Regions from separate parts of the Homo sapiens genome. Here region 2 is reported to be linked to region 1. Evidence: microRNA targets listed by miRTarBase, many of them from high-throughput screens and not tested one by one. Region 1 holds a microRNA gene; the other region holds the end of a gene's coding sequence.
What was found. Region 1 holds the annotated microRNA hsa-miR-766-3p (ACUCCAGCCCCACAGCCUCAGC, at 1,845-1,866, shown strand). A microRNA usually pairs through its seed, bases 2 to 8, with sites in the 3' UTR of a target mRNA and lowers its output. Matches are read on the target gene's strand: a 7mer-m8 pairs with bases 2 to 8, a 7mer-A1 pairs with bases 2 to 7 and ends in A, and an 8mer does both.

Region 1 (4,240 bases):
TATCACCATCACCATCTTAGACAAATCTGGCTCAAGGGTAAGGCTATCTGGAGCATGGTAGGTAGAGATAGGTCTTCTCTGACCGGCCGTGGGCATGGAAAAAATAAAAAAGATTAGCACTTGTCCTCTCGAGAAGTCAGGGCATTTTGATGGAAACTAGGCTCTGTTATGAAGAGACAGCCTAGTCTGCAGAAAAACGGGAGCCTCGCGAGAAGTGTCATCTGGGTGCCACGGGCACTGATGTCTGGAAGCGTCTAGTCACCTCAGGACATCAGTCCCCATAGAGACCTTCTGAACACTGATGCCCTAAGTCATCAAGCAGCTTGCAGGCTTGTGGTTTGCTTTGCTAAGAATAAATAGGGACTGAGAGTACTCAGCCATCTCAAGGTGTCACACAGAACCACATCTTGGTACCTCATGGATTAGGAGTGATAATCATCCTGGGCTCTGTTCTCAGCTCAGCTCTGGCCTCCTGCTAAGCCTAGGGTAGGCTCAACCTCAAGGCTGGAAACCCCCAAGCTAGGCAGCAGCAGTTGTCAAGCATGCTGTTATGGCTGTGAAGGGATTCTGGGTCCTTTATTACTCATAATTGTGTTTCACTTTGAGAAACAAAATTCGAGGCTGAACAACATAGTGAGACCTCATCTCTACTGAAATTTAAAAAAAATTAACTAGTGGCCGGGCGCGGTGGCTAACGCCTGTAATTCCAACACTTTCGGGGGCCAAGGCAGGTGGATCACCTCAGATCAAGAGTTCGAGACCAGCCTGACCAACATGGAGAAACCCCGTCTCTAGTAAAAAGACAAAATTAGCCAGGCATGGTGGCGCATGCCTGTAATCCCAGCTACTCAGGAGGCTGAGGCAGGAGAATCGCTTGAACCCAGGAGGCAGAGGTTGCAGTGAGCTGAGATCTCGCCTTTGCACTCCAGCCTGGGCAACCAGAGCAAAACTCCATCTCAAAAAAGAAAAAATTAACTGGTGCTGTGGCGCACACCTGTAGTCTCAGCTACTTGGTCGGTGGGTGGCCTAAAGTGGGAAGATTACTTGAGCCTGGGAAGTTGAGGCTGCGGTGAACCCTGATCGAGCCACTGCACTACTGCAGGCTGGGTGACAGAGCAACACCCTGTCTCACAAAAAAAAAAAAAGAGAGAGAGAAAGGAAAGGAAAGAAAAAGAAAGTAAATAAAGAGAGAAAGAGAGAAAGAAATAAAAAGGAAGGAAGGAAGGGAGGAGGGAGGGAGGGAATTCCAGTGGAAGGAAGGAAGGAAGGAATGGAGGAAGGGAGGGGAGGGGAGGAGAGGAGAGGAGCAGGGAATTCCAGTGGATTCAGGATTATCCCTATCATAAATCACTCACCACTTACTCCCTTGCATCCTACTGTGCTTTGTTTTTTTTTTGAGACAGGCTCTCACTCTGTCGCCCAGGCTGGAGTACAGTGATGCAATCAATTTCAGCTCACTGTAGCCTCCACCTCCTGGGTTCAACTAATCCTCCTGCCTCAGCCTCCCGAGTAGCTGGGACCACAGGCATGCACCACCATGCCCGGCTAATCCACTATGGGTTTTTTTTGAGTGGGAAAGAGAGGAGTGGCCTCACAGCTAGTGTGCCTGAATTGGCATGCCTGTGAGAGGAGCTTGCATGTGAGTGTTTTGTGTTACATGCGCTGTGATGGGAAAGAGGGTGCTATCAAATATACACAGAGGATTGCTTAGCCTGCCTGCCACCGAACAACTATGTCAAAAGTCCCCAGAGTCTTCACACAAGCCGTGGTGTATGAAGCTGCATCCTCAGGACCTGGGCTTGGGTGGTAGGAGGAATTGGTGCTGGTCTTTCATTTTGGATTTGACTCCAGCCCCACAGCCTCAGCCACCCCAGCCAATTGTCATAGGAGCTGGATTGGAAGAAGCGGAAGAAATCTGTTGCCTGAGTGGAGAAGACTGTACAATGTCCTGTCTCTCACCATGGGGGATTTTTGTGGCAGGAAATGAGAGTAATGAGGTCCCTGCCACCACCTTGAATTATGGGTGGCTCCAGAAAACCTTATTGTAGATTGAGGGGGAAGAGAAGGGAGAGCGAGGTCTTGTTGCATGCTATTTTCAACCCATGCTCTGATATCTCTCAAGGTTGTAGACTTTAATACTAAGAATTGCTATGTTATTTTAAATTTAATGATGTTCTTTGAATGGCTGAAAGCATGGCCAGGACCAGCAAAAAGGCCCAGTTACTTAATTGACTGAGCTCCATTAATTGTCCATTTGTGAGGTCTGGGGTTTGGTTCCCACAAAGGCAATTGACATTTGGGCCCAGTGAGAACACATGGCTGAACAGTAGGGTCATAGGAAGACCCACAGGCACAAGTCCATCCCTTCCTCTGAGACAGCAATGGTATTTCCATTGTTGCCATGTACTTTTACAGGAATCACCAGTGGTTGACTTGAGAGCAAATCAGCCAATGGTCTTGTTCAGTCACCAGCAGGGGCCTGAAATGGGGACTAACATAACTGGGAAACACTGTCCACCCTGGGAGGAAACCAAGCCCAATCAGAATATTATCATTAGATGAGGAATAAAGAGTTCTGACAGTGTGTATTTCACTGGGCTAAGCAGTCACCTAGCCTCCCAAGTATAATGGATGTGGTGAAATAAGAATAAAGTAACTCACGCCAATTGGATTATTAAGTACTTTACAATGTACAAGAAGAATTTAAGTTAGACACAAGTCAGTAAAGGTGGTGCTATGGTTTGATTGTGTCCCCTCCAAAATTCAGGTGTGGCCAGTATGATAGTATTAAGAGGTCGGGGCTGGGTGCAGTGGCTCACACGTGTAATCCCAGCACTTTGGGAGGCCAAGGTGGGCGAATCACAAGGTCAAGAGATCGAGACCATCCTGGCCAACATGGTGAAACCCCGTCTCTACTAAAAATACAAAAAATTACCAGGCGCAGTGGCTCATACCTGTAATCCCAGCTACTTGGGAGGCCGAGGCGGGTGGATCACCTGAGGTCGGGAGTTCGGGACCAGCCTAACCAACATGGAGAAACCCCGTCTCTACTAAAAATGCAAAATTAGCCGGGCATGGTGGCACATGCCTATAATCCCAGCTACTCAGGAGGCTGAGGCAGGAGGATCGCTTGAACCCAGGAGACGGAGGTTGTGGTGAGCTGAGATCACGCCATTGCACTCCAGCCTGGGCACCAAGAGCAAAACTCCATCTCAAAAAAAAAATAGCTGGGCATGGTGCCACACACCTGTAGTCTCAGCTACTCGGGAGGCTGAGGCAGGAGGATCACTTGAACCCGGGACGCGGAGGTTGCAGTGAGCTGAGATCACGTCACTGCACTCCAGCCTGGCGACAGAGTGAGACTCCGTCTCAAAAAAAAAAAAAAAAAAAAAGGTAGGGCCTTTAGGAATTGATTGGGCCTGGCCAGGCGCGGTGGCTCACACCTGTAATCCCAGCACTTTGAGAGACCAAGGCGGGTGGATCACCCAAGGTCAGGAGTTCAAGACCAGCCTGGCCAACATGGCGACATCCTGTCTCTACTAAAAATACAAACATTAGCTGGGCGTGGTGGCAGGCACCTGTAATCCCAGCTACTCAGGAGGCTGAGGCAAGATAATCGCTTGAACCCGGGAGGCGGAGGTTGCAGTGAGCCGAGATCGTGCCATTGCACTCCAGCCTGGGCAACAAGAGCGAAACTCTCATCTTAAAAAAAAAAAAAAAATGTGATTGGGCCATGAGGGCTTCTCCCTTGTTAATGGGATGAAGGCCCTTTTTTTTTGAGATGGAGTCTCGCTCTGTCGGCCAGGCTGCAGTGCAGTGGTGCGATCTTGGCTCGGCTAACCACAACCTCCGCCTCCCAGGTTCAAGCAATTCTCTGCCTCAGCCTCCCGAGTAGCTGGGATTACAGGCGCCCGCCACCACGCCCGGCTAATTTTTGTATTTTTAGTAGAGATGAGGTTTCACCATCTTGGCCAGGCTGGTCTTGAACTCCTGACCTCGTGATCCACCTGCCTTGGCCTCCCAAAGTGCTGGGATTACAGGCGTGAGCCACCACACCTGGCCGAAGACCCTTTTTAAAGAGACATCATGCAGTGTTGGGCTAGCTTGTCCTTCTGCTGTGTGAGGATGCGGCAAGAAGGTCCTCACCAGACCAGAATGCTGGTGCCTTGATCTTGGACCTCCCAGCCTCCAGAACTATGAGGAATAAATTTTTTTTTTTTGAATAAATTTCTATTGTTGA
Region 2 (4,000 bases), not on the chromosome of region 1:
ACGCTCTGCCCCACCTTCCCCAGGGCCTCCTTGGAGGAGAGAGCCGTTTCCAGAAACCCCCTGTGCACCCTGTGCCTGGAGGAGCGCAGGCACCCAACAGCCACGCCCTGCGGCCACCTGTTCTGCTGGGAGTGCATCACCGCGTGGTGCAGCAGCAAGGTGAGGTGGGAGCCTGCTGCCGTCCTGGGGTGGTCAGCGGCTGTGCCGGCAAGATGCACCTGGCTGCAGCAGAAGTGGGGAGTCTGGCTCTGAGCACCCTCCAGTTTTGAGGGTACAGAGGTGGGCATCTTTTTAAAGGCTCCCAGGTAGGTCAGATGTGGGTTCGTTGAGGGGGTTAAAGTTCCAAATTCACGTGTATTGAGGCTTTGCCGAATGCAGGTTGGGGTAGTGGCCAGCCCTGAAAGGCCCCACGCTTGCACCACGCATCCCAGCACACCCTTCCTCCCGGGGTCCTCACCACACTTGAAAACCCTAGCACACTGACTCACACCCACCGAAGATGCCGGCAGGGTGAGAGCGCACGCTTTCCCAGGAGCTGGGCTTCGTGGGCTGTGTCAGCTGCGGGAGCAGGAGGGAACCTCCCGGCCGAGCCCCACACCCTGAGCCCTACGCCCCCAGCCCCGCCCCAGCCCCCACTGGGACTCGGCCTTCTGAAAAAAGGCTGGCTTTCTTGGTCATTAGTTGAAGGAAATACAACATTTATGTTGTGTGTCATGTGCAGAGAATGTGGACAGGAAAAGAAATGCCGATGGGGATGGGCATGGCCCAGTGGCCCCAGCTGCTGTGACCCCCTTTCTCCTCTCCGCAGGCGGAGTGTCCCCTCTGCCGGGAGAAGTTCCCTCCCCAGAAGCTCATCTACCTTCGGCACTACCGCTGAGCCGGCGCCCGGGTGGGCCTGGACACAGATGACCTCTACGGGAGTCTGAACGCCAAGATTTAGTCTCAGGATTAACCTTGCTTGCACAGAAGTTAGAACACTCTCAGTTTTTTGTCATGTAAGATACTAACCTAGCCACCCTGGGAGAGAACAGAAAGCTGTCCCTGGCTGCGCTTTCTCAGCCCTGGGAGGGGCGCCTGAACCCAGAACATTTCCCTAACCCCAACCTGGTAGGACTCAGCCACTTCTTCAGGAATTTCACTTATTTGGACGGGATTTTAGGTTTCCCTCCCTTCCCCAAACCATACAGTTGAGAAGTAATTCAGAAGTAGGCCAGAAGACACTTTATTCGTTTATATTGTGAGAAAACAGCCCCATCAGGCTTGTGTTAAGGCAATGGACTGAATGAGTGCGTGCTGGGTGGGGTGGGGCACGGAGGCTGGCGGGTTGCTTCAGCCAGTGCAGTGAGAACAGCAGCCCCACGGCCCCATGGGAGGCGGCGCTGCTCTCCCCGAGGGCGGCTGGGCAGAGCACATCCCCCAGGACTTGATGACCACACGGGGCAGAGAGAAACCAACCAAGGCCAGCACCTCCGTCGGAAGCATTTGGCACACACACCTTCAATACACGTCAAGGTCGCTTCCAGTTTTAGAAAACAGAAATCTGCATCTCAGCCTGAGACGCACAGAGAGGTCTCTTCCTGACCCAGACGCACTCACGAGCCAGGTCCTGGGGGTATGGGGGCTGCCAGGGGCGCCCGAGCCCTCTCCTGGGGGGCCTGCTGGGCAGGCGACCTGCTGACCCACGGTCACTGCTGTGTTCAGCCCCTCAGCTCGGCCCCAGCCTATTTCCCGCCTCCATTTGATGTTTCCAGGTTTTCAAAACTGCATTTAACCTGCGCCAGAGAGTTCACCGTAGGCATCTTTAATAAACTAACTCCAGCAAAATGTGGGTACGTTACTAACACAAGATGGAACTTGAGATTTCCTGAAGCGCAGTGTTAAAATGCCTCGAGGGCGTGTGCCACATTTCCCTGCTGACGTAAAACACCTGGCCAGCAGGACCGGCTTCCGGCAAAGACCCGCGCAAACCATGTCTTGCTGTTTGACTTACTTAGGAATGAGGATGACCCTGTATTCCTGGGTTAGTCAAGGTCAGCTTGCCAGAGACGGAGGAGGGCGGGGGGGCCGTGACCCTCTAGACTGGGAGGACCACCAGGAGAGGCACTGGGGGCTGCGGCCGGGTGGGCAGATGCCGCCGTGGCTCCATCCATCAGCACCCAGTCCTTTGCTTCACTGTGCTCTGGCCAAGCGCGTGCGACTTCCTGTCACACCTTAGGCCTGAGCGCTTATTAAGAAAACAGTATGAAAAATGACAAACACTCCTGTCCACAGTCTGAGAATCCCAAGTGTCTCAACACGGTACCAGAAGTACCACCTGGGAGCAGCACTGGCTATCTTGGGTCAGGGACACACAAGCTTGAACGTGGCCTCTTAGAGGAGCTCGATGTCAGATATGTAAACACTGGTACAAGAAAATCCAGACACTAAGCATTCACCGTGTCAATTCTGAGACAGGAAACACCGCCCAGAGTGAGGAGCCTGCGCAGCCCGGGGCCCAGGAGGAGAGGCCTTCACTCGCATGTCAGTGTCTCATCTGGGACCACAGCTGTGATGTTCTGCTGTGCAATATGGGTCACCTTTCGAAAAGGCCAAACAAAAGGTGGGCTTTCCTGTGTCCAGCGACTGCCATGTTTTAGGTAAAGACTTTAGTAAAGGTGGAGGTAAAATCACTTGGTAAAACGTTGAGAGTATTTCTTTTCTCGAATCAAAAACGCTGACATGCAAGTGGGTTCCGCCTCTCCCGCAGTGGGGGGCCGAGTGCTGAACCTACAAAGCCAGTCTGCTCCCTGCCAGCTTCGCTGCCCCTCATGGAGGGTTGCATGAGGACAGATTTAAATTAAAAACAAAACACTCTACGTATCAAAGAAATGTGTCAAAATAATCTCAAACAATTAAAATATAATATATATTTATAATTCCGGGCCCTCAAAAGCAATCATGGTAGTTAAGAACCAAGTTTTGAGTCATTAGGATAGAGGCCAACTTTAAACATCTCCAGTGAGATGGAATTAGGAAACTGGCATTAGAACCCCACACAGTTACTTGACAATCACCTTTAAAACGTTAAGTTCTTTCGGACACGCAGGAATCAGGCTAGATCATCCCTCGGGCTCTGTGGAGTGGCTGGCACCACCTGCGGCTGCTGGGGAAGGCGGCTGGCGGGGAGCGGCCCGTTCCTCCCTCGCAGGCCTTGCTCCTGCCTGCCCACCTGGCACAGCGGGGACCGGCCACTCGCCCTTGCTCCCATGGGCTCCACCCGCCTGGCTTCCCGCCTGCAGCTGACTAGAATTCCATCCGTGAGAAACACTTGAACGTCACTGAAAAAGAAATCCATGCGATTTGGTTTAAGCGCCAGTTTCTTCTAGAACCTGATATTTCAGTTACAAATCATTGAAGCTCCTTTTTAAAAAGAAAATTTGACTCCCTCGTAATCAACTACTTTATGTGAAGAAAAAAGGCATTGTTAACAATGGCTCAAAACTGTTCTTGCAACACGTGAGGCAGCCTCAGTCCCGCTTCTAGCTGGCGAAGGCCTTGCCGGCATCCTCCTTGCCTCTGTACCTTCTCTTCCCATGTGTGAACGGGATGTACCGGTACTTAATCATGTGCTGGGGAGAGAAACACAGACTCAGTTACTGCACAACCGCTCTCCAGTCAGTCACACTGTCCCCAAATCTGAGCGGCCAAAGGTCCCCCATCTTTTCTATACATCAGACAAGTGGAATCGGAGCCCCAGTGGCTTCCTGCGCCCACATCAACACAGCAAGACCTTCCACAGCCCACGAGGCCTAGGTTTGAAACCCCATCAATCCCAGTGCTTCGTGAGCCTCCCGTGGAGGAAGGGCAAGGGGGATGTGAGGTGGCCCAGGGCCCTCTCTGCAGCCAACACCCCGGGCACAGAGTGAGGCCCGCAGCACGAAGGCCACACCGTCAAGGGCACAGTCCGCAGTCTCGGCTAACTTCCCCCTAACACCCTCCTCCTCGGGCAGGCTGGCGCGGG

Region 2: the mRNA of RER1 is a reported target of hsa-miR-766-3p. Seed matches in the 3' UTR shown: 7mer-A1 at 2,992-2,998 and 7mer-m8 at 1,814-1,820.

What each region holds. Positions count from the first base shown.
Region 1 is chrX:119,644,389-119,648,628 of GRCh38, reverse strand. It overlaps MIR766 (microRNA 766), which reads left to right and starts at 1,781; the gene lies at 1,781-1,891. All of the region lies in intron 5 of SEPTIN6 (septin 6), which reads left to right. RefSeq lists an enhancer at 548-727.
Region 2 is chr1:2,402,643-2,406,642 of GRCh38, reverse strand. It overlaps RER1 (retention in endoplasmic reticulum sorting receptor 1), which reads right to left. Exons shown (of 7, transcript NM_007033.5): 7 at 1,207-3,608. The coding sequence ends at 3,519. It overlaps PEX10 (peroxisomal biogenesis factor 10), which reads left to right. Exons shown (of 6, transcript NM_002617.4): 5 at 24-159; 6 at 809-2,669. The coding sequence ends at 877. Among named protein-coding and RNA genes, the nearest start is that of PEX10, 7.9 kb to the left of the region's middle.